Linked DNA regions of Homo sapiens. The protein of the gene in region 5 purifies or fractionates together with the protein of the main gene of each other region. This does not show direct contact. Each region holds a gene or a part of one and is shown on either strand. Other genes may lie near its edges.

Region 1 (2,281 bases), on a different chromosome or scaffold from region 5:
GCCTCCTGAGTAGCTGGGATTACAGGCATGAGCCACCACACCCCGCTAATTTTTTTGTATTTTTTTTAGTAGAGACAGGGTTTCACCATGTTGGTCAGGCTGGTCTTGAACTCCTGACCTTGCGATCCACCCGCCTTGGCCTCCCAAAGTGTTGGGATTACAGGCGTGAGCCACTGCGCCCGGCCTATTTATTATTTCTAATATTTTTATTTTTTTTAAGAGATGGGGTCTTGCTGTGTTGGCCAGGTTGGTCTGGAACTCCTGGGCTCAAGCAGTCCTTACTTTGGCCTCCCAAAGTGCTAGGATTACAGGTGTGAGCCACCGCACCCAGCCAACTCTCTTCTTAATCCATGACAATTTTACAGCACAAAAGCAGTTACAAGTGACACCATCATAGTCTTTTCCCTGAATTCCATGTCATCAAGCTACTATCCATACCAAGGGGCTACCCTTTTCTCAAATTACCAGGACAATCAGATGTGATCCAGGCAATGGAAGGCTAGTATCAGACATATAATTTATTTATAAAGTGCTTGAAGATATTTTCATTACATCCACAAAAGGGAAGGCTCTTACTTGGGCAGAAATGTATTACTTATTGTGCCTATTTTCTTTTTTTTTTTGAGACGGAGTCTCACTCTGTCACCCAGGCTGGAGTGCAGTGGCACGATCTTGGCTCACTGCAAGCTCCACCTCCCAGGTTCACGCCATTCTCCTGCCTCTGCCTCCCGAGTAGCTGGGACTACAGGTGCCTGCCACCATGCCTGGCTAGTTTTTTTTTGTTTTTTTTTTTTGTATTTTTAGTAGAGACGGGGTTTCACCGTGTTAGCCAGGATGGTCTTGATCTCCCTACCTCGTGATCCGCCCACCTCGGCCTCCCAAAGTGCTGGGATTACAGGCGTGAGCCACTGCGCCCCACCCCATTTTGGTGTGATCTCAGCTCACTGCAACCTACCCCTCCCAAGTTCAAGTGATTCTCCTACCTCAGCCTCTTGAGTAGCTGGGATTACAGGGGTCTGCCACCACGCCTGGCTGATTTTCCTATTTTTAGTTGACACTGCATTTCACCAGGTTGGCCAGGCTGGTCTTGAACTCCTGACCTCAGCTGATCCACCCGCCTCGGGCTCCCAAAGTGTTGGGATTACAGGTGTGAGCCACCACACCAGGCCCATATTTTCTTTTAGACATGCAGGCAATGTTGTGGTTTGTTGTTAAGATGTCTTAATATTCCTCTTCCCAGGCTCTGAAACCTAGTGTGAAGGTATATGCTGCTGAACCCTCAAATGCAGATGACTGCTACCAGTCCAAGCTGAAGGGGAAACTGATGCCCAATCTTTATCCTCCAGAAACCATAGCAGATGGTGTCAAATCCAGCATTGGCTTGAACACCTGGCCTATTATCAGGGACCTTGTGGATGATATCTTCACTGTCACAGAGGATGAAATTAAGGTGAGGCTCCAGCAAGAAAAGAAATAGCAAAGCATGGTGTAACTTCTTAGGCAGAAGAAACTTCCCTTAGGAGTAGCAAGTGACCCACGGGAACCTGACTAGGTAACTTCATGACATGGGAGGGTACCCTAGATGTATTAATGACAACCCTCTTGACAGAAGCAGAGTCAGAATTAAAGAAAAGCTTTGGGAAGCGTGTGTACACAGTGATAAGAAAATTCAAACTGGACACGTATTCTCATCTGAACTTTATAGGTAAACCAACTAGACTCCCCTTTCACTAATTCCTACTCCCTTCCATATCAACAGTGTGCAACCCAGCTGGTGTGGGAGAGGATGAAACTACTCATTGAACCTACAGCTGGTGTTGGAGTGGCTGCTGTGCTGTCTCAACATTTTCAAACTGTTTCCCCAGAAGTAAAGAACATTTGTATTGTGCTCAGTGGTGGAAATGTAGACTTAACCTCCTCCATAACTTGGGTGAAGCAGGCTGAAAGGCCAGCTTCTTATCAGTCTGTTTCTGTTTAATTTACAGAAAAGGAAATGGTGGGAATTCAGTGTCTTTAGATACTGAAGACATTTTGTTTCCTAGTATTGTCAACTCTTAGTTATCAGATTCTTAATGGAGAGTGGCTATTTCATTAAGATTTAATAGTTTTTTTTGGACTAAGTAGTGGAAAAACTTTTATACTTAACTGAGACATTTTGTCAAGGCTAAAAAAAAGTCTTGCAAAATGGGGCAGTGGACTGACAGGCTGACATAGAAAATAAACTTTGCCCAATCACAACTTGTGCCTCCCATCCCTGGAGTACTGACTGGCACCGGTAAGA
Region 2 (3,500 bases), on a different chromosome or scaffold from region 5:
GACAGAGACCCCATTTCTTAAAAAAATATATATATAAAAAAAAATCTAAAGTATCTCTATCGAGCTAGACAAGGTAGTTCATGCCCATAATCCCACCACTCTGGGAGACAGAGACAATAAGTTCGCTCAAGGCAAGGAGTTGGAGATCAGCCTGGCATCATAGTGAGCTCCTGGAGACCCTATCTCTACAAAAAAAAAAAAAAAATTAGCCAGCCATGGCGGTAAGCACCTGTAGTCCCAACTACCAACTACTCAGGAGGCTGAGGGAGGAGGATCATTGAGCCCAGGAGTTTGAGGCTGCAGTGAGTTATGCTGGCATCACTGCACTCCAGCCCGGGCAACAAAGTGAGAACCTGTCTCAAATACATAAAAGCGTCCCTACCTACATTACTATCGTGACAGGTATGGTAACTAGCCAAATTATGACCTTACTTGACAAAATAGATTATGTTTCAACCCAGTCCACGAAATGCAGCCACCATGAGTTTTTTCTTAACTTTGTCTAACTGACTCAATGCCAGATATCATGCTAAAAGCCTTCAATCAATTAACAATTAAAAGTATAGTTTATCACCAGGTGCAATGGCTCACGCCTTTAATTCCAGCACTTTGGGAGGCTGAGGTGGGCAGATCACGTGAGCTCAGAAGTTCAAGACAAGCCTGGGCAACATGGTGAAACCCCAACTTTACCAAAAATACAAAAAATTAGCTGGACGTGGTGGCACATGCGTGTATTCCCAAGCTACTTGGGAGGCTGAGGTAGGGAGGATTGCTTGTGTCCAGGAGGCAGAGGTTGCAGTAAGCCGAGATCACGGCACTGCGCTCCAGCCTGGGTGACAGAGTGAGACCCCATCTCAAAAAAAAAAAAAAAAGTACACTTTATGGTAATTCAAGTAACAAATTTAATTCCATATAAATTATACAATGCAACAGGGATATTATGTAAGTTCAGTGACAAAAGGAAAATGGCTATAAAGCCTCCAAAAATTGCACATAATTCACATATACAAGTACAGACTCAATTTAACTCATGATCTGAAATGAAAAATTCATATGGTCTGCTACTAAAACAGAAACTCTTGGACACCACCACTCTGAAGTCTAAACTGTCCTAACACTGTCAATAACTGTGCTGGAAAGCAAGGAGCCAATGAGGTGACACTGGATTTCGTACCTGTTTGAAGCTGTTCTTGCTGAAGCTCTGTTTGTTCTACTTGGTGAGGCTGACTAGAAAAGCTCTGGTTATAACTGGCCTGGTACTGATTTTGCTGTTTTAAAGTTTCTGGTTCATTAACAGGAGGAACTGGGGCATTCATATTGAACACCTGTTAGTAAATAAAGTAAATGATTAGTTCATCCTTTTATTCTCTGGTTTATAACATGGCCAAACTCAATGGTGGTTTTACCTCAGACATAAATAAAGACATCACAGAGGTCTCAAACACAAAAACATCACACACACATACAAAAATCCCTCCAAGTGATTCAATGTGGAAAAAGACATATATACCATATAGTACTTAAAGGGGAGTATAATATGCTGTGAAATGGAAGTAGGGAATTAAAAAAAATAAAAAGACATGCAATCAGCAGCCTTGGAAATGCTTTTACATATATGAGAAATCTTTTTAAAAGACAAACTCTGGCCTGGCACAGTGGCTCACACCTGTAATCCCAGCACTTTGGGAGGCTGAGGCAGGCAGATCATCTGAAGCCAAAAGTTCAAGACCAGCCTGGCCAACATGGTGAAACCCCGTCTCTACTAAAAATACAAAAATTAGCTGGGCATGGTGGCTTATGCCTGGAGTGTCAGCTACTCCAAAGGCTGAGGCATGAGAATCGCTTGAACCCAGGAGGCGGATATTGCAGTGAGCTGAGATCACGCCACTACACTCCAGCCTGGGCGACGGAGCAAGACTTTGTCTCAAAAAATAAATAAATAAGACAAACTCCTGGATGCAGTACCACTTACAGAAGTTTGTTCTATGAACTTTAACAGGGTTGAATGTTTTTTCATTTTTATTAACATATTAATCAAAAGTTATTTTAATATTTAATCTTATGAACTTTCCTCTCAGCACCGATTTAGCTGCACCCCACAGATTATAGTATTATTATTATTTTCTAGAAATTCTCTAAAGGTGCTTGCTCAAGAATCAAGGTAAAGCATAACATCTGAAACTTCAAAATACTTCAGTAAAATAAAAGATTAAGCAAACAGGGCAACTATTAAATCTAGGTAATGATTATATGGATGTTATATTAGTCTATTTCTCTGAATGTTTAAGCTTTTGTTAATCAAATCAAAAGGGTAAAACTACAAATTAAGATGATACAGGCACATCACTCATAAGGCTAAAATTTATCTCTAGAATATCCGTTAGTATCAGTTAATCTCTGGAATAATCAGTTTATGTTCAATTAAATATACCCTACAGTTAATGAAAGATGCAGACTCAAGCACAGTTAAATGAAGACCTTTAAAAAAGAAAAGAAAATCTACCATGATTCATATTACATACTAGGCAATTAATGTTAGTTAATTTGCTTACCGTTTGCATGGATTGGAATGGAGCTGCATTTACATTGATTCCACTGCTATGTAAAGGTTTGCTTGTCCCAGCCTGAAATACTTGAGGCTGAGACGCAGCAGGAAGGGATGATGATGCTGTAGTCTGGTCTGTATTTAAAGAGATTGTTGCCTAAACACAAAGTGAATAGATGCACTTTAGCGGTAAACTAAACTTAGCCAAACAAAAAGTGAACAGATGTACTAAAGTGGTAAATTAATCTCAAACTTATATGTATTAACAAACTCAAATATTTCATGAAAGCAAAGTAGGTCCAAAAAGAAGAATCATTATATTAATGGTAATGTACATCTGTTCAATTCATGAGTAAGTGCCTCATCAAATGTATGTGACCCGGTAACAGAACTTGCCTGAATCTGATCAATTGGTTCCTTCTGTGGTCGTTGCTCTGTAGCATGAGAAGGCTGGTACAAGGGTTGAGATGCTGTGTACCCCTCACTTGTGGATGATACCAAAGGAACCTAGACATAAGTAAAGAAATAAAAGCTTCTTCCTGCTTACAAAATTGACTGTTAAAAAAACAAGTTACCTCTAAGACGCATAAGGCTAAGAAATAGATACAACTGCTAAAGAAGGGAGAAATTAATATTACCATCTCTCTTTAAATTTGTATAATATAAAACCTAAAAATTGCAAAAATATATATATTTTTGAAGCTCGACGTTAAATAAACCCAAGTCTCGTTATAAAAGCCCTCCACAAGTACTTCTAAGATGGAGAAATCTGCACTAAATTTTAGAATTATGTCTAAACTATGTCTTCTGAAATTCTCAGTTCTAAATAAAAAAGGCTTATTATATTATAATACATTATTTAAAATGCAAGACTTAAGAAAAACTTAAAAAGTCATCAAGAGGAAAAATGAACCTAAACATAAAAATAAAGGCTGACAGCTATCCACAACAATAA
Region 3 (3,500 bases), on a different chromosome or scaffold from region 5:
GGCTGAGGCAGGAGAATCATGTCCAGAGGGTGGAGGATGCAGTGAGCAGAGATCACACCATTGCACTCCAGCCTAGGCACCTAGAGCAAAACTCCATCTCAAAAAAAACAAAATAAAAACTATCCACAAAAAAACAAGTCATATTCTTTATATCTATAAATATCAGTTTTATTAACGTAATAGGTCACAGAAGCTTTCACTTGGGATTAGAGTTATTTCTTATGACACAGCAGAGCTTCTTTAACGTATTATATTTTCAGTATAGAGAAAGGTAGAAAAGGGGGGCTGAGAAGAAACTAAAAACCAATAAAAACCAAGATTGACTGTCCTTGCAGAGATCATCAGGGAAACCTATCAGTGGCTGTTAACAGCCATCTGGGAGATAAACACAAACAACTAAAAACAAAGACTTTTAGAAAGCCTGAAGCTTCTATCAGGATGATTTGAGAGTAATCTTGGAAGTGGTAGGAATACTGGAACTGGAAATGAATAAACCAAAACCTACTAATGAACTTTATCGTATACCATGATTAGAAAAAAGCTATGAGAAAAAGCAGGAAGTCCAATATACCAATCAGGGTCCGTTAAACTCAATTTTAGCTTTTCCATTTCTTTTATAAACAGATCTAACTATTCAAAGGGATCAATATCTCATGACTTATATTCTTCCTTACGACATATTCCAAAAAACAAGAAAGTTTACTTCTCTAAGACTAGAACAGAACTCACCCTTATTCTGTAATTATTATATGTATCCACTGGGCCCTTTTATAAATGTAAGGTAGAATCTAGTGATCTTATTTTTCCTATATCTTGAAACACTTTACAATTTCATCAACATTCATCAGTTATTCTCAGCTATGCTTTAAATAAAGACTAAAATGGAACAGAGGAATGATGGCATCACCTAGAGGATACAACAGTGAAATAAACTGTTAATGTTCATACAGTTTCCTTACTGCATAGCCTGAGGTATCACATCTCTTTCAAAACAGTTCAAAAAGACCAAAGACACCATCCTTGTAGTCTGCTTTTAGCTACCGTTGACCAGTTGATAATTATGAATTTTTTTCACTCATAATTGCGAAGAGAAGAAAAATTTACAGAGGAAGGCCTTTCTAATTATTAGAGATATCAGACAACAGATGCAAAGAGTACTGATAAATGTGAAATTATCTTACAAAGCAAAACCTCAGACTATGAAGTCTGAGATGGTGACATCTTAGATGAATGTTCTCAATGTATTTCTCAAACGATGTATTTCTCAAACGATGTATTTCTCAAACATTGTTCTCAAACAATGTATTTCTAAGGAGAAGAGGGAAAGATGATGTGTATTCTCATCCAGTTAATGACTCAACTGAGACTCCATCATGCAAAATCCTCCAACAAGAACCCAGATCATCCTGGTTTGCTAAAAGGGTATATGACAGTATTCTTCCATCTTTTAAGATGTTTGTGGTCAGGCACGGTGGCTTACACCTATAATCCCAAAACTTTGGGGAGCCAAAGCAGGTCGACTGCTTGAGAGCTCAGGAGTTCAAGACCACCCTGGACAACATGATGAAACCCCATCTCTATCAAAAATACAAAAGAAATTAGCCAGGTGTCGTAGCGTGCACCTGTGGTGCCACCTACATGGAAGGCTAGGGTGGAAGGATTGCTGGAGCCTGGGAAGTTGAGACTGCAGTGAGCCAAGATTGTACCACTACACTCAACCCTGGGTGACAGAACGAGACCCTGTCCAGGGGGAAAAAAAAGGTAAAATAAAAATTGAAGATAAAATTTTAAGAAATGTTTGTGTGCCAAAATGTACTTCGTAAGTGGAAATGTCAAAAGCAGATGTGTATACAAAGGTAACTCGAAAAAGAAAGATAATGAAATGCAAAAATATTCAATAGATTAGTCAATCCAACTGACTAAATGTGCTAAAATTACAGCACAGAGATGGCTATCCCTTCTTCAATAGAATGAGATGTCATTAAAAGTTCCAAAGTATTCAAGGACTGCATTCTGATGATCCAACTGTAAGAATAACCAGAATAAGCTAGAATTTATTAGAGATATATTTTAAATCTGCTATCAATATTTATAAGATTGGTATGTTCTAGGTTCATGTATAACAGTGAGCAGTTAGTTACATTTAGAGAACTGCATTCATTGTAGATACATATATCATCAAAACCTGGAAAATATGAAAAAGTTAGATTTGCTATGTTTAAACCCTCACTAAAATGTCTAATAAGGCCATGCGTGGTGGGGCTCACGCCCGTAATCCGAGTACTCTGGGAGGCTGAGGTGGGCAGATCACTTTGGCTCCAGAGTTCGAGACCAGCCTGGACAACATGGTGAAACACCATCACTATGCAAAATACAAAAGTTAGCCAGGCATGGTGGCATGTGCCTGTAATCTCAGCTACTTGGGGGCCTGGGGTAGGGTGGAAGGATCTCTTGAGCCCAGGAAGTCAAGGCTGCAGTGAGTTGTGTTTGCTTCACTATACTCCAGCATGGAGTCAATAATGGCCTTTAAAAAAGTCTAATAATGGGGGGCACAGTGGCTCATGCCTGTAATCCCAGCACTTTTGGAGGCTGAGGCAGGAGGACTGCTTGAGCCCAGGAGTTTGAGACCAACCTGGACAACACAGGAAGATTTCGTCTCTATAAAAAAAATTTTTTTTTAATTAGCCAGGTGTGGTTGGTGCATGCCTCTAGTCCCAGCTACTTGGGAGGCTGAGGAAGGAGGATCACTTGAGACTGGGAGGTCAAGGCTGCAGTGAGCCATGATCATGCCACTATACTCTAAACTGGGTGACAGAGCGAGACCCTGTCTCAAAAAAAAAAAAGGTCCAATAACGACCTTACTACCCTTTCATTCTTTCTGCTACAAAATTATTTGGTAAACGATCAGTGATGACTGTTTTCCCAAGTATACTGAGGGTTACAAAAAGAATATTCTAGGCCGGGCGCGGTGGCTCACGCCTGTAATCCCAGCACTTTGGGAGGCCGAGGTGGGTGGATCACCTGAGGTCAGGAGTTCGAGACCAGCCTCAACATGGAGAAACCCTGTCTCTACTAAAAATACAAAATTAGCCAGGCGTGGTGGTGCATGCCTGTAATCCCAGCTACTCGGGAGGCTGAGGTAGGAGAATTGCTTGAACCTGGGAGGCGGAGGCTGCGGTGAGCTGAGATCGCGCCATTGCCCTCCAGCCTAGGCAACAAGAGCGAAACTGCATCTCAAAAAAAAAAAGAATATCCTAACAACCAAAAGAAGGTGCCCATTCGAGTAACTATCTCAGAGAGGCAGTTCGAATATCTCTTGTTAATGTGGGTAAATCAAGCCTCATTTGCTGAAAATGTTATGTCTTAAAACTACCTAACCCCCTTATTCTATTTTCACCAAAGCATAATCATTCATGAATCTGGCTTTCTAAATAAACCATCTCAACTGCCTGGAGGCTTTTCTCACTGAACGATGAAATGCTGAACTCCATTTTAAACTT
Region 4 (3,237 bases), on a different chromosome or scaffold from region 5:
CTTTTACATCAAGTGGAAATGGGGGAAATCCTTTTAAGCATTCTGTCTGGTGAACCTCACCTGCAGAGGCTGTATGGCAGGATGAGGGCTGCGGACACTGGAGGCGTATTTGTAGGGGGCAACAGCCCGGGGAGCAGCAGCAGCAACAGCAGCGCGTGGCGCTAAGTTCTGCACAGCTGTGGGAACGCCTTAGGGAAAGAACAAATACAATTAAAGCCCATCAGTCTGGGCAAAGACCCGTCAAATCCCATCTTTCCCCCTTCTGTGTGCATCCAATACCACCTCCAGACTGGCAGCTGTCAGTCAGCCCTTGCTGGGCGGCACCAGCCCCACCAAAGTCCATAGCCAAGCGGTCCGGGCACTCAGACCCTACAACAGACCAGCAAATGCACATCAGTGTTGGCGGCAGATGTCCAACTGGCCACGTCCCACGGAAGGAGAAATTTCAAAGCACGTTTACGCAACACATTGCACAGGGGGCCACTACTACTTTCGAGGATGAGCCAAAGGATAACATACAACTCTTTCCACATCTTGGAATACAAGACATATTCTGTATACACTGTTTCCTTGTATTCCTCACCCCACCCAAAAGAACAAGCTGCCTCTGTGGTCATCCAGCTAGCAAACTTCTACAACTAACCTTTTTCACATAGGTCACCGATGAGCAAAGAATGTTAAAAGCAACTGACACACCTAGAACTCATACTGTTTCTCTGCTCCTGAAGTGGCCACCTAAGCACACAGCTAAGATTACAGAACCAGGACTCGATAAATTCGAGCCCAACAAACTGACCAACCCAGGACAGAGCCTAGTCATCCTGACTCCCTCCTCCCCAGGCCACACTTCTAAAGGCCAGTTTGCTCACCGACTCTCTGAGTGGTAGTAGGGAGGCCACGAGAGGCCGGAGCATTACCAGTTGGAGCCAGATGGCGAAGAGTTGGACGAGGCCCAGACTGGCGTATAGCACTTGGCATTCCTTGGAAGCCTGGTGAAGAGAAAAATTGCACATCATTGAGAAGTGATGTGGACCAGAACCTAGGCTGTGCCTCAGAGTGGGGAAGAAGGAAAGGCAGGGGAGACCAGGACAGGTATATCCTGGGCTGTCAATTACTGTTCCCCACCACCTACCTTGAGGTCTCCCACCTTGCTGCCAGCGTGGATTAGGCCTCATCTGTGCTAACTGGTTAGGTGTATAATATGGAGGCCTTCCCTGAGCCTGTAAGACAGAAGAATACCCAAACACCCCCTTAAGGACTGAACCCATCCTAGAGAAGTATCTCATCTCATCTCACTAACCAGGACCTAAGCTAATTATTTAAATGTTCTTTCTATTCAAGAGCTGAGGGGTCAGCTAATGGGGACTGTTTTATGCTACCACTGCCACTGTGGGTGTGTGTTTGTGACCATGGGTAAGTCCTTCATTTTTACTTGAAGGGTCCTTATTGTGACATTCTAGAACTCTAATAACGAAAAATCCCTCTCCCCAACCACTGCAGAATACTGCCAGCCGGCAGGTTCCCAAGAGCTGTGACCAAACAGCACACCCACCTGTGGGACTGCTGGCACAAAGTAGCCACCCGCTGCAGGCTGGAACTGATTTAAGATGGCATTGGCAGGAAGTGCTCTCATTCCAGCCACTCGTTGCATATACTGGTTGGTCAGGTGAGCCTTTCTCTCTTCCTTCCTCTGGGCCAGGGCAACATATAGTGGCTTGGAGCCCACAATGCGTCCATTCATCTCAGTGACTGCTTTGGTTGCTTCTTCAGGAGATGAGAAGCAGACGAAGCCAAACCCTTTGCTTCTTCCATCCTCCAGCATTACCTACAAAATGAGACCAGCTACTTAAGAAATAAGGTGTCCCTGGCTGGGTGTGATGGCTTGTGCCTGTAATCCCAGCACTTTGGAAGGCTGAGGTGGGAGGGCTGCTTGAGCTCAGGAGGTTGAGACCAGCTTGAGCAATGTAGTGAGACCTCATCTCAAAAAAACAAAGGGCCAGGCGCAGTGGCTCATGCCTGTAATCCCAGCACTTTGGGAGGCCGAGGTGGGTGGATCACGAGGTCAGGAATTCAAGACCATCCTGACCAACATGGTGCAACCCCGTCTCTACTAAAAATACAAAAATCAGCTGGGCGTGGTGGCACACACCTGTAATCCTAGCTACTCAGGAGGCTGAGGCAGGAGAACCGCTTCAACCCGGGAGACAGAGATTGCAGTGAGCCGAGATCGCGCCACTGCACTCCAGCCTGGGCGACAGAGCGAGACTCCATCTCCAAAACAAAACAAAACAAAACAAAACAAAACAAAACAAAAACACCAACCAACCAAACCAACAAAAAAAACAAAACAAACCTACAAATAGGAAAAAAAAGGATGTCCCTGGGTGGGGAGGGAACTATTCAGAAGAACCAGAAAGCCTGGGTTCTGCTGCAGTCACTGAGTCTAGGTCAGGGTTCTGGCACAGGATTTACCCCAGACCAACTAAGTCACAACCTCTAAGGTATCTAGGTGTTTTCTTTGAGTCCCCAGGTGATGCTAAAGTTCTGAAACACTATGATATGGCTAATAATAAAACCAGGAACTCAAAGATGTTTCCTGATACCTGGTGGATAGCTACTCCGGGTAACCACAAAACATCTTGAGAGTAGTACTGAGCAATTTATTTTCATATCTCATATGCTTCAAGACCTCGGTGGACAAACTCTAACAAGCTCTTACCAACGTCAGGATAACACTTTTGGAATACCACGTGTGGACAGGAGTCCTAAAATGTTCAGGTAACCAATGACTGCCACCATTAATTCAATGAGATGACCAGCTCAGAGATAGGCAGCCTAGATTCTAGTCTCACTTGCCTTCCTGAGGCTCAATTTCCAAGAAATACTCCAAACAGCTACAAAACCACAGGTCTACTGGTTCAGGCAGTCTTTTCCCACATTAAGTTCATCATTCACAAATGGCATTCTTCCTAATAGACAAGGTTATTCACTGTCTTCTCTGGTGTGACTGTCATTGTTTTATGTCTTAGTTAATGGCCCAGAGAGCCTCCTGAAGTGGAGGATAGGGAAGTAAAGAAGTGCATCACTCCATAACTCTCTACCAATGAGATGGGCCAGTAAGGTATGTGAATAAAAATGCCACACCATCATAATGAAAATGGGGACAATTCAAGGTATGGCTCTTCTGCTCTCTTAACAAATGCCAACTTGACTACTAGGCAGATAAGCAAGGATAGA
Region 5 (3,500 bases):
CACTGAGCATGGCTAAGTGCAGGAAGTAGATCATGGAAACGACAATCGGCCTTTAGCACTGGGTAGTGACCCCTGCAGATCTGAGCAGCCTCAGCATCAAACGGAGAGACCATGTGGTCTGTACACACGATATTCCACTCCTAATCAGACGATTCTGTCGGCAGCTGTGATTGTCAGGGTCACGGGCGGTGTTGGAGGGGTATGCAACTATGATTGGGGTTAGCACAAGGGAGGCCTTGGTGGTAATGAAATAGTTCAGGATCTTCACTGAGATAATAATGGTTACACAATCCACAAATGTGATAAAGGGGCACAGAGCTGTATGAGCAGATGGTACCAATGCCAATTTCCTGGTTTCATCATGCTGTACTGTAGTTACGTAAGATGTAACCACTGGGGAAAACCAGATGAAGGGTACACAGAACCCCTTTACTATCTTTGCAACATCCTGTTCATCTATAAAAAGTTAAAGAAAAAACCCTCATGACTATTAATCAAGGGCTGCAGATGTTTCTTAGATATAAATACATTCAGATCATCCAGTTCAATAGAGAGACGAAAAAATACACAAGCAACACAACATCTATGCTCCAGATGCTCAAGCTCTTTCTTAATTCAGCCTCCAGCCAATAAGGAAGTCAAGTCGTTCTTCAGGCTGGCCTGGACACCTGGTCACATGCTTGTCAACCCCTAACAGCTCACCTCTGACTACAGGTAAGGTAAAGAAGTTTTGAAATTTAAACCATTATTTTCCACAAAATAGCAACAGCCAATCATTTTCCCACAAAGTTACGATACAGCATCAACCACTGGTGTCTCTGGTGAAGCTCAACAGAAGCTGCTAAGGCCTAACTAACCCCCTTCAATGTAGATTTTTTGTTAAATGAGAAAGAGTTCATTAACTTCGGCAGGACTGCTGTATTATCGGAGAAAGGCTGATTTTGGAATTGGACGGACACAGATTTAAAAGCCCACGTGTGCCATTTTGGAGCATTCTAACAATTCTCTCTGTGCCTCAGTTTCCTCACTGCTACAGAGGAGATACTGATATTTACATGACGGGATTGCTGTGAGGATGAAATGAGAAAAATCCAGCACAGGGTTTGGCACACAGGTGCTTAATAAAATTGGAATTCTACGATGGCAGTCAGGAGCTGTAGAAATTAAAATCAGTAGGCTTCCCTTATTGCAAGGGTGATGCTGTTACCCAAGCCAAGAACATGGTTAACGCCAACGTTCTGGAACTCTGGATGCTGAAGACAGATCAGCATCGGCACCTAACTAGAGCACCCACAGAGCTACTGCTACCTTAGTGGCCCGCACTACCACGGTTTCCAGGACTCTGGAGGGAGGTGACCTCCAGCAACACCTTGGCCTCTGCAATGCCAAATATAAATCCAGACCGACGGAGCTATGAGAGTCAAGCGAAGCAACAACATACAACATTCCCGCCAACTGAGGATGGGAGCCGAAAGAGGTTGTATTTTCAAACAAATCTGATCAAAGTCCTCCTGCCTTTGACTATAAGGGCTGTTGTAACTAACAAGGTTAAGGTTTCTTAGCAATAGTCTACTCAAGGAAGGTACCGGTATACCTCAATAAAAGCAAACTTAACATATGAACATCCACAAGGATGTCAAAGATAAATGTAGAGGTCATTTTGCTTTATAGAAAGATACTCTGTTTGTCTTAAATGTGATTACATTTAAATAGATTCTGTTTTCTGCACACATGCAGGCATGTCAAAAGGAAAATACTGCCTAGACGCGACCTCCTCAGTGTGGCACACAGGTCAGCAGCAGTATCACCTGGGGGCTCCTCGGATGGGGATGTACAGGCTCTCAGCCCCCGCCCAGGCTTCCTGAGTTGGAATCTGCAGTTTGACAGGGAAGACCTGTACACACGGCAGGACTTGAGGAGCTCTGTCCTCAGGGTTACTCACGACCCGGAAGCCAGAAGCTCTCAGTACAGCTGCATGGCAGGCTATCCCCGTGTTCTCAACCCTCGCTCCTTACTGAACGTCAGAATAACTGCTGCAACAATTGGGGAGGAATTAAAAAAAAATTTTTTTTAAATTTTTCTCCTTTTGTAATATAGATACCTGGACCCTGACCGAAGATTTAATTTAATCGGTCTTGGGCAGAACCCTGGCATTAGCATTTGTTTAAAGCTCATTAGGCAATGCCAGGACGACCTTGTTGAGAACTATGGCTACAGACGGAGAGCAGGGCCTGGTAGAAGACCACCTCACCAACAGGTAGGACCTAAATTTATCACTGGAAGAAAACACTGAACTGGAAGAGAGAGAGAGATGTGACTAATGGAAATCTCACACAAAACACGATGTTGCATCAAGGTTGATCATCTCTACACACACTGGACCAAAAGAGATTTTCCTGGGGCTAGCATTAGGGAACTGCTTTTGAAGCTCCTCAAACACAGGTGGATGTCTCACTTTAACATGACTTAGCTACCAAAGAGTCAAGTAACACCACACAGTGTTGAAAACCTCAAGGCACCCAACACCCAATAAATTCTCAAACAGAAATCTGCCAGAGGATCAGAAACCTCTGATCTCTTACAACTAAGAGCTTTCTGCACCAAACACATAAATTCTCTTAAAGTTCTACAAAAGCCCACAAGTAACATTTCCCTCCCTGATCTGTTCAACTGTACATTTTCATAGAGGGTGTCCGGGAGGGCAAAGGCTGGGGGTGGTGGGTGAGCAGCAGGCAGAAGAGAGGATCAACGTGCAGGGATGTGGAAACGCCAGTACAGAAGGCACGTGAGCCCCACGGGGCTGGGGAGATGGGGGTTATCTCAAGGTATGGGAGGGACGTGGAGTTGATACAAAGGCTCAGGGTGTGATCGTGGGGTGGGGGCAGCTGTTGGGCAGAGCAAAGGAGATGGAGTTCAAGAGGCGCGGGACTGGAATTCTAGTTCTTCCTGAGGACACGGAGACGACTGAGAGAGTCAAGGAAGAGGGGTTGGAGAGGAGGCTGGGATAAGCCAGAGGCCATGTCCTTGGTGAACAAGGAAGAGTGGCGTAGTCCAGGTCTCACGGTGAGCACTGAGGGCAGAGGTACAACCAGAAGCCAGCCTGTCTGACCATGGCTCTTTCCAGCAGCCCCTTGTGAAGGAGCAGCCGGCACGGCCGGATGTCAGAGCGGCTCCTCCCTAGTGACCACTGCCTATCCCGTGACTCAGCATAGTCCGCGCAGGCACCAAAGCCAGGTATCCTTTCCCAGCCTGCTGCTTCCATCTGCTGAGGGTGCAGGGGCAGACAGGGGCTAAAAGACCCAGGAATTCAGTCCCAATCTGCACAGGGAATCATCTAATGAGACTTCTAACCACTGGTAATTCTGGACTCCCTAAAAATTATTACTATTAAGAAACAAACCACCACCCTAGAAATAAAGATTTCTGTCAGTCTGGAAAAATGCCAGGAATCAATAAACCAAGTCTTCTTTTTTGTTCTATGGTCACCAAGGGCCCTGGCT
Region 6 (3,500 bases), on a different chromosome or scaffold from region 5:
ATCTTGATATTGTTTATCATGGCTACCTTGGTCCTTTATATATGTATAAATCCAACATCTGGTCACTCTCACAGACAGCTTCTGTGGCCTGCTTTTATTCCAGTGTATGAGCCTACTTTTCTTTTTCTTTGAGTGCTTCATAATTTTTTGTTGGAATTATGCCTTCATAATTTTTTTGACATTTTAGATAATACATTTTAGCAATTCTGGGTACTGTCCCCAACCCTGGGGCTTGTCATTGTTAATATGCTTATTTGTTTAGCAACTGGGTAGATTGTTTTGATAAAGTATATTTCCCCTGCCACAGTGTTCAGCCTGTGATGTTGCTGGTGGGGGGTGGCACCCAGCCACTCTGGATGACAGTGGTTTTAGTGAGGTCCTTTTCCTCTTTCCCTGACCACATCCAGCTGTTGAACTTCGCTAATGCCAGGTTATTGTGCTGTTCTCAGCAACAGCCTGGGCATAAGTTGCTCTACAAACTAATCCAATCAAATTGTGGCTTCTTCGAAGGGATACTTTCTAAGGTCAGTGTTTGGTTAGTTTGTTCTGTGTCCAAGAGGCCTCCTCCCAGCCGTGTTAGTCTCTGGTTCTCTTCTGCGAACTGGTTGGCCTACAATTTGGCCTATTGCTTGATTCTCCACTGCCTCCACCCCCTTCGTCACAGCATCCACGGTACTTGAACAGCTCCCTTAGGCCGGAACTTCTCCACATTCCATGGCAGGGAATTTGGTGCCTTTGGGCAGGTGTAAGAGCTGTCTGTTTAGTTGCCTGCCTCTCATCCCAGGCAGAGCCTCTGAGCCAGGGCCTGCAGCTGAGGACAGTAATGGGCTCCTCTCTGAATAGGGGCTGGGGGAGCTAGCAGCAGCCTGAGATCCTCCAAATGTGTCTTCCCCAGCCTGGAACCACCTCATATCTAGGACGGGGTTGATGGGGCCCCAGTCTTCTCCGTTCACTGGGCGGAGCCTCTTGCAGAGGCTTAAACCGTACTGGTAGAATGGAGCCAAGGTGAAGCCTTCATTCTACAAATAGGGTCTGAGCAGAAAGGAGGGCCCCTCTTCTCAATCCTACTCACTCAGGACCTGGTCTCAGTCACAGGTGGGATGAGAGCAGAAAGGGAAGCACTGCTATCCTGCCTCTCCTGGGAAGACACCCCGCTGCCTGGGAGCTGGGGAGGTGGCCCTGTGTTCTTGGCTGCAGCAGGATGGAGCTCAAGTGCCACAGACTCTCCGTGTCCTTACCAAATGTATGTAGGTGTTCTGGAGCAAGTGTTTCTTCATTTGCTGGGTGCCCATAGGACCATTTCCAAAGGCTCTCTAAATGGCTGTTTTGGGACTGCTCATTACTCTCTGAGAAGGTCAGTGAAGCTCCTCGAGCCATCATGTTGAAGTCAGTCTCGGCCAGCCCTTTTGGAGAAACCATGTTTGTGCTTCTGACATACCAGTTATTAAACAATCTACTGGAATGAGGAGAATCTCAATGATGAGAAAGTCTTTCCTTTTTTGGACTGTGGGAGCAGTCCAAGCTGCCCAGCTGCAGAGCAGGAATCTGCAAGTGAGACTGTGACCAATTCTTGACATTTTGGAGTTGACACCTTGGAGGTGGTTAATCCATGACGAAACTGAAGCTAAGCCGATCTCATGTTTTGACTCCTGTCAATCCGGAGAGGACAGCAAATGGCCTGCTCAGGTGTCTGTTAACAGCCAGCGCTTCCAGGCCCACCAGATCCTCAGGTGTCTGTTAACAGCCAGCGCTTCCAGCCCAGCAGATCATCTGGCTTTTCTCTGCAGAAGGGGCCAAAAGGTCCACCTGATGAACCTGTTGCACGCGAAAAGTTCAGAACCACTGCTGCCAAGATGCTGACAGAAGCCTTGAGAAGCACCTGCTGCGGGAAAAGACGTGCAGGCGTAGAACACAGAGCGGGTGGCAGCTTCTTCAGTTCAATCCCCACCTCAGGCAGTTGTTGGGGGTCATATCTAGGGTGAGCTGTGGTGATGGAATAGAGATTTGGAAGCCAGGCATCACTCGTATAACCTCATAAGCTCCTTACCCAAGTTGTCCTCATCTGAAATGGGTGTGCCACTCCTTTAAAGCTGTTCAGGCACCGAGCTGGGCTCCCCACACAGCATACTCCAGCACAGAGCAGCAAAGCGCCCGGAGGAGGGCTCACAGCAGGGAGGAGAGGTGGGGCAGTGGCTTTCTAGGTCAGAGATGTCTTTTCCCTACGAGGCACGTGATGGCGTTTTAGGGAGATGGGCTTGTTTAAGACCCAGTGGGAGGATTTTGATGAGAGATGTTTATGGCAACTCTTAGCAAGTTCTGTAACCTCTGTTGCCTCAGTCCCCTTGGTGTAACTGTGACCATGACGTCTGCCGGGGCTCTCAGCAAAGCCCTGCCCTTGTGAGAGGACGGAGGCGCAGCCCCCGGTGTGCTGTGGTAGCAGGCACTTCACCCAGCCTGTGGGCAACTGGCGTGTCCTGTGTACAGCAGGCGGGCGTCCTGGCCTCCGGTGGGCTGCTGCCTGCTCTTCTCCCTCCTGTTTCAGACACACACTCTGACTGCCACAGTATCACAGGACCTTGGAGCTGCCACCCCACAGGGTTTCTGGAGCTGTCTTGGGCTACGGGGTGCATGGCTGAGACAGATTATTTCTTTTTTTTTTTTTTTTTGAGACGGAGTCTTGCTCTGTCACCCAGGCTGGAGTGCGGTGGCGCAATCTCGGCTCACTGCAAGCTCCGCCTCCTGGGTTCACGCCATTCTCCTGCCTCAGCCTCCCAAGTAGCTGGGACTACAGGCGCCCACCACCACGCCCGGCTAATTTTTTGTATTTTTAGTAGAGACGGGGTTTCACTGTGTTAGCCGGGATGGTCTCGATCTCCTGACCTTGTGATCCACCTGCCTCAGCCTCCCAAAGTGCTGGGATTACAGCCGTGAGCCACCGCGCCCAGCCGAGACAGATTATTTCTGTGTTTTATTTTTTTGTTTTTTTCCTTTTTTTATTTCTCTTATCTGCTGTTGGGCAGGGCACTCTTCATCCGTCCCCTTCTGGGTTCCAGTTCTAGGGCCTGTTGGCAGCAGCTCTTGGGCCTTTCCCGGCCATGTCAACCTGCATTGCTCCTGTTTGTTGCTTCTACTACTCACACTCATTCCTTTCGAGTTTTCTAAGTGCAGTGTGGTATTGTGGACTGGATTCTGGAACAGAAAAACGGTTCATGGAGAAACCGATAAAATACAAATAAAATCTATAGTTTAGTGAAGAGTACCGTAATGTCACTAATTTCTTAATGTTGACAATGTCCTGTAGTTGTTTAACATTAGTGGAAGCTGAGTGAAGGCTACATGGCAACTCCCTGTACTATTTTATTATTATTATTTTTTCAGAGACACTGTCTCACTCTGTCACCCAGGTGGAGTGCAGTGGTGCAGTCATAGCTCACTACAGCCTCAGACTCCTGGGATCAAGTGATCCTCTCACCTCAGCCTCCCACATAGCTGGGACTACA
Region 7 (3,500 bases), on a different chromosome or scaffold from region 5:
GTATCCACAAAAATTAAAAATAACTTTAAAAAATTAAATAAAGAACCATGCCTACAGCTCTATAAAAATAATGAACCATTAGAATAAGAGTCCAAGATTTTATAAATAAATAGAACTTAAATATCTGTCCCTTTTTTTAGGACAAAAAGGACAGCGTCCTCTAAATTATTCAACTATTTAGAAAAGAAAAGATTAAAAATAATGTCAAATTGTCATTGATATTCTGATTTTTACCTCTATTAGAGTTCTACCTGTTAGACAACCAAAGAAATGTATTTGACAGCACTTTGCAAAATACATAAAAATGTACAATTTGTCACTGAAGCATTATCATTTACATCGTTATAAAGATGCCAACTATGTTTAAAAGTATTTACCATGCTTTGAAAGCTCTTTCTCCAAATTTTTGGAGACTGGCACACTTGAGTCTCTGTTTGGCAGACGAAGCCTTCCCTTCATCCCGAAGTTCATCGAGCTACAAAAAGGAATAATTTGATGAAAATTAGAAGAAAAATTCTACATGAAACACCCCTCCATAAGCTCAGATGAGACTGTGCCAAATTAAATTTTGAAGGCATAATTTATGCCTAAATTCCCAAGTACTCCCTTTAGCGAATAATGATTTTGCTCTCTAAGAAAAGGAAAGATCATTCGATCATTCTGGTCACAGCGGAATTCCCTATGTAGTTAGAAACCAACTGGAAACATTGCCAGGAAAAAGAGCCTTAAAAGTGGGAGAAAAGTCAGAGAAAGAGTACGCTAATATCCCAGGGGCTGCAATTTTGCTAATTTTTAAATTTTGTGTATAATTCATTTCAGTCTCTCCTCCACCAACATCAGTAAACTCCTCAGAAAAGAAAATAAAGCATTCCATAATATATATTTATGGAATGAATGCATGAACTCAGGCATCTAGATGCAGTAAAATTCTCTACTTTGAATTCCCTCCCTACTAAAAATTATCATGAAAAGATAAACAAGAACTGTGGCCCCTTGCTGTGCAATTTGACAAACAAGTTTCAGTATTTCACTATAGTGATCACCACCATAAAAAGTGGTGAAATCTTTAAACACATGCACAGTGATTACCTCTGACAGATCATCATTGGCAAATCTTAAAAGAAGAAACGAGAGTGTAGGCCTTCAAAGATGAAAGATTTTCAAGACAGATAAAAGGAAGGCTTTTTTGACCATGTCGGAAAGTTTGTATCAGACACTCAGGTTCCCTAAATCTAGCCACAAAATGGACAAAATCAGGTTGGATAATGAACTCTTTTTTTCTATTCTTTTGCATAATACCTTTGGCAACAGGCAGGCAGCTTTATCAGCAGCTTGGCAACATTCTGTAAAAGCAGCTTTATACCTTTTAGCAAAGAAAAGGAGTTCCGGGGCATAAAAGTAAGGATGTCTTCTGGCAATTTCATATAAGTATCTAAATTTTGAAAAAGAAAAACAGTCACTTTTCTATAGCAGACAATATTACAGAAATAATTGTAATCGACATTCTCCCCAGAACCTCCAAATTCCAAAGATATCTAATTAACCAATTAAGCTCAATTTGCACATGATGGTCTTGTCTCTGTCATTCTTTAAGTATGTGGAAAAAAGGGTTAAGTGTGTGTGTGTGTGTGTGTGTGTGCATAAATGGTTAAATTTTGGCAATATAATGTTGCTGACTAAAACGAAATCAATTATAACAACCATATATACATATCTTCGTAATACATTAAATAATTTGTCTATCTTAAATTTTTCAGAAAGATTGTATCCTGTTTCAATAAACTTCAAAATATCTTTGATCATATTTTTTGCTGTGTAGAATTTTGTGGTATCAAATACTACTTCTTTAAAAAATCATCATAACAAAACTTCCAAGTCTTAATGTTGAAAATATTTTTGTTATGGTAATTTTTATAGAGTGTTGGCCTATGGAGTTACTCCATGCTTTTTAATTTTGAACTATAAACATCTGATTACTTACTTTTTCAAAAATGTCTCTTCATTGTCATGAAAAGCAGTGCACATCACATCAACCTCTGGTCTCACCAATCGGGGGAGGTTTGGGTTGTCATCTTTGTGTTGCAAGAAGCATTCATTTCTCTCAGGTTCTTGTTTTGCACAGCAGTCAGCCATTTCACCATAGGTTTCACGAAGAGTTGCAACTGTGCATAATTTGTCTCCAAAAAGGGTATGCTAAATGGAAGAAAGCAGGTTTCAGTTGCTGGACAGTACCTTTTTTCTTTATAGCCAAAGAACAGTACAAAGGATTTAATATACTGGTTAAGCTTGGTCAGGAAATCATTTAAAAATCCGCTTCCCCTCCCAATCGAGGTTTACAGTTTCTGATGATTTAACCATCTCTATATAATTTTCATAAGAATTAACTGTCACACTATAACTCATGGTGAATAAAACAGGACAAAAAGACAGTCAATAGCTTTAAGGAAAGTTATATGACTCCTATTTTGAAACTTAAAACTAAAGGGTAAGAGCAATCATTATAACAGAAATCAAGAGAAAATAAGCTTCTAAGCAGCAGGTGAATTCACCTAGGGGAGAAAAACATTCAGAGAGTTTCTCATTTCATTTGCCCCCTTTTTAGAGGGCCATGTTTTAGTATATGCCATTGAAAACTGAGGAGTAACACAATCCATCATATATTAAGTGACTATTAAGATATAGACATTTTTCTTCCAGAAATGTTACCTAAAATCACTTTCCAATAAATGAGTCCTTTCCTTATCTCTAATTTTTATTATGAAAGTAACTGTAACCCCAGGGAAAATATACTACTCTAGACAGAATTTATTAATTTTTATGTATTTTTAAGATTTCATATGTAGAGCCATAGTATTGTGTAAAGTTAAAGTCCTGACTCTGCTGTGAGGGAGAGGTACATAATAAAAAGGGGAAAGGCTCCAGTGATAAAAACTGGCCTTGCCCACAAGAGGTATATATAGATTGAGTGGTGAGAGAAAGATAAACCTGTCCTTGTTTTGAAGATTGATCTGGAAATACTAAAAGTTTAAAGTTCTTCAACATGACTAAGTACTCTGCTTTTTTATTGTATGTAGAAATACAAAGATATCTAAAATGAGGAATATATAGCTGTACTATTATTCCACCCAGGTAACAAAATTAGCATAGAAATCAGTGGGTGTTTTCTGATGATAAAAACCATGATATCATCTCTAAGAGATAGTAGCTCTCCTGTGTTCATTGCAACACTATTCATGATAGTCAAGATGTAGAAAACCAACCTAAATGTCTATCAATCAACAAATTAATGGATAAAGAAAATGTGGTACACACATGCACTGGAATATTATTCAGCCTTGAAAAGAAGGAAATTCTGCAATAGGCAACAACATGGTTGGACTTTGAATGCACTATGCTAAGGGAAATAAGTCAGTCATAAAAAGATAAACAGTACATAATACCACTTATATAAGGTAGCTAAAGTAGTCAAACTCATAGAATCAAAGAGTATAATGCTGGTT

What was found.
Region 1: the proteins of PINX1 (region 5) and TSR1 purify together in Homo sapiens (co-immunoprecipitation; one large-scale study listed by IntAct). This does not show direct contact.
Region 2: the proteins of PINX1 (region 5) and CAPRIN1 purify together in Homo sapiens (affinity purification with mass spectrometry; one large-scale study listed by BioGRID and IntAct). This does not show direct contact.
Region 3: the proteins of PINX1 (region 5) and FXR1 purify together in Homo sapiens (affinity purification with mass spectrometry; 2 studies listed by BioGRID and IntAct, with this or other methods). This does not show direct contact.
Region 4: the proteins of PINX1 (region 5) and PABPC4 purify together in Homo sapiens (affinity purification with mass spectrometry; one large-scale study listed by BioGRID and IntAct). This does not show direct contact.
Region 6: the proteins of PINX1 (region 5) and C1orf174 purify together in Homo sapiens (co-immunoprecipitation; one large-scale study listed by IntAct). This does not show direct contact.
Region 7: the proteins of PINX1 (region 5) and ALB purify together in Homo sapiens (affinity purification with mass spectrometry; 2 studies listed by BioGRID and IntAct, with this or other methods). This does not show direct contact.

What each region holds. Positions count from the first base shown.
Region 1 is NC_000017.11:2,321,896-2,324,176, forward strand, and holds the end of TSR1 (pre-rRNA-processing protein TSR1 homolog), read right to left. Parts: 3' UTR 1,979-2,281; coding exon of another isoform or gene 1,760-1,978; 3' UTR 1,451-1,759; coding exon of another isoform or gene 1,241-1,450; 3' UTR 501-1,240; downstream 1-500. Other genes in the region: SRR (serine racemase), read left to right, coding at 1,241-1,450, 1,760-1,978. UniProt on the Homo sapiens protein: Required during maturation of the 40S ribosomal subunit in the nucleolus.
Region 2 is NC_000011.10:34,089,731-34,093,230, reverse strand, and holds part of CAPRIN1 (caprin-1), read right to left. Parts: intron 3,053-3,500; coding exon 2,942-3,052; intron 2,703-2,941; coding exon 2,553-2,702; intron 1,326-2,552; coding exon 1,175-1,325; intron 1-1,174. UniProt on the Homo sapiens protein: mRNA-binding protein that acts as a regulator of mRNAs transport, translation and/or stability, and which is involved in neurogenesis, synaptic plasticity in neurons and cell proliferation and migration in multiple cell types.
Region 3 is NC_000003.12:180,943,670-180,947,169, reverse strand, and holds part of FXR1 (RNA-binding protein FXR1), read right to left. Parts: intron 1-3,500. UniProt on the Homo sapiens protein: mRNA-binding protein that acts as a regulator of mRNAs translation and/or stability, and which is required for various processes, such as neurogenesis, muscle development and spermatogenesis.
Region 4 is NC_000001.11:39,563,554-39,566,790, forward strand, and holds part of PABPC4 (polyadenylate-binding protein 4), read right to left. Parts: intron 1,826-3,237; coding exon 1,553-1,825; exon of another isoform or gene 1,517-1,552; intron 1,221-1,516; coding exon 1,133-1,220; intron 990-1,132; coding exon 870-989; intron 370-869; coding exon 283-369; intron 189-282; coding exon 61-188; intron 1-60.
Region 5 is NC_000008.11:10,815,876-10,819,375, forward strand, and holds part of PINX1 (PIN2/TERF1-interacting telomerase inhibitor 1), read right to left. Parts: intron 1-3,500. UniProt on the Homo sapiens protein: Microtubule-binding protein essential for faithful chromosome segregation. Mediates TRF1 and TERT accumulation in nucleolus and enhances TRF1 binding to telomeres. Inhibits telomerase activity. May inhibit cell proliferation and act as tumor suppressor.
Region 6 is NC_000001.11:3,893,773-3,897,272, reverse strand, and holds part of C1orf174 (UPF0688 protein C1orf174), read left to right. Parts: exon of another isoform or gene 1-1,978; intron 1,979-3,500.
Region 7 is NC_000004.12:73,407,287-73,410,786, reverse strand, and holds part of ALB (albumin preproprotein), read right to left. Parts: intron 2,194-3,500; coding exon 1,982-2,193; intron 1,433-1,981; coding exon 1,300-1,432; intron 476-1,299; coding exon 378-475; intron 1-377. UniProt on the Homo sapiens protein: Binds water, Ca(2+), Na(+), K(+), fatty acids, hormones, bilirubin and drugs. Its main function is the regulation of the colloidal osmotic pressure of blood. Major zinc transporter in plasma, typically binds about 80% of all plasma zinc.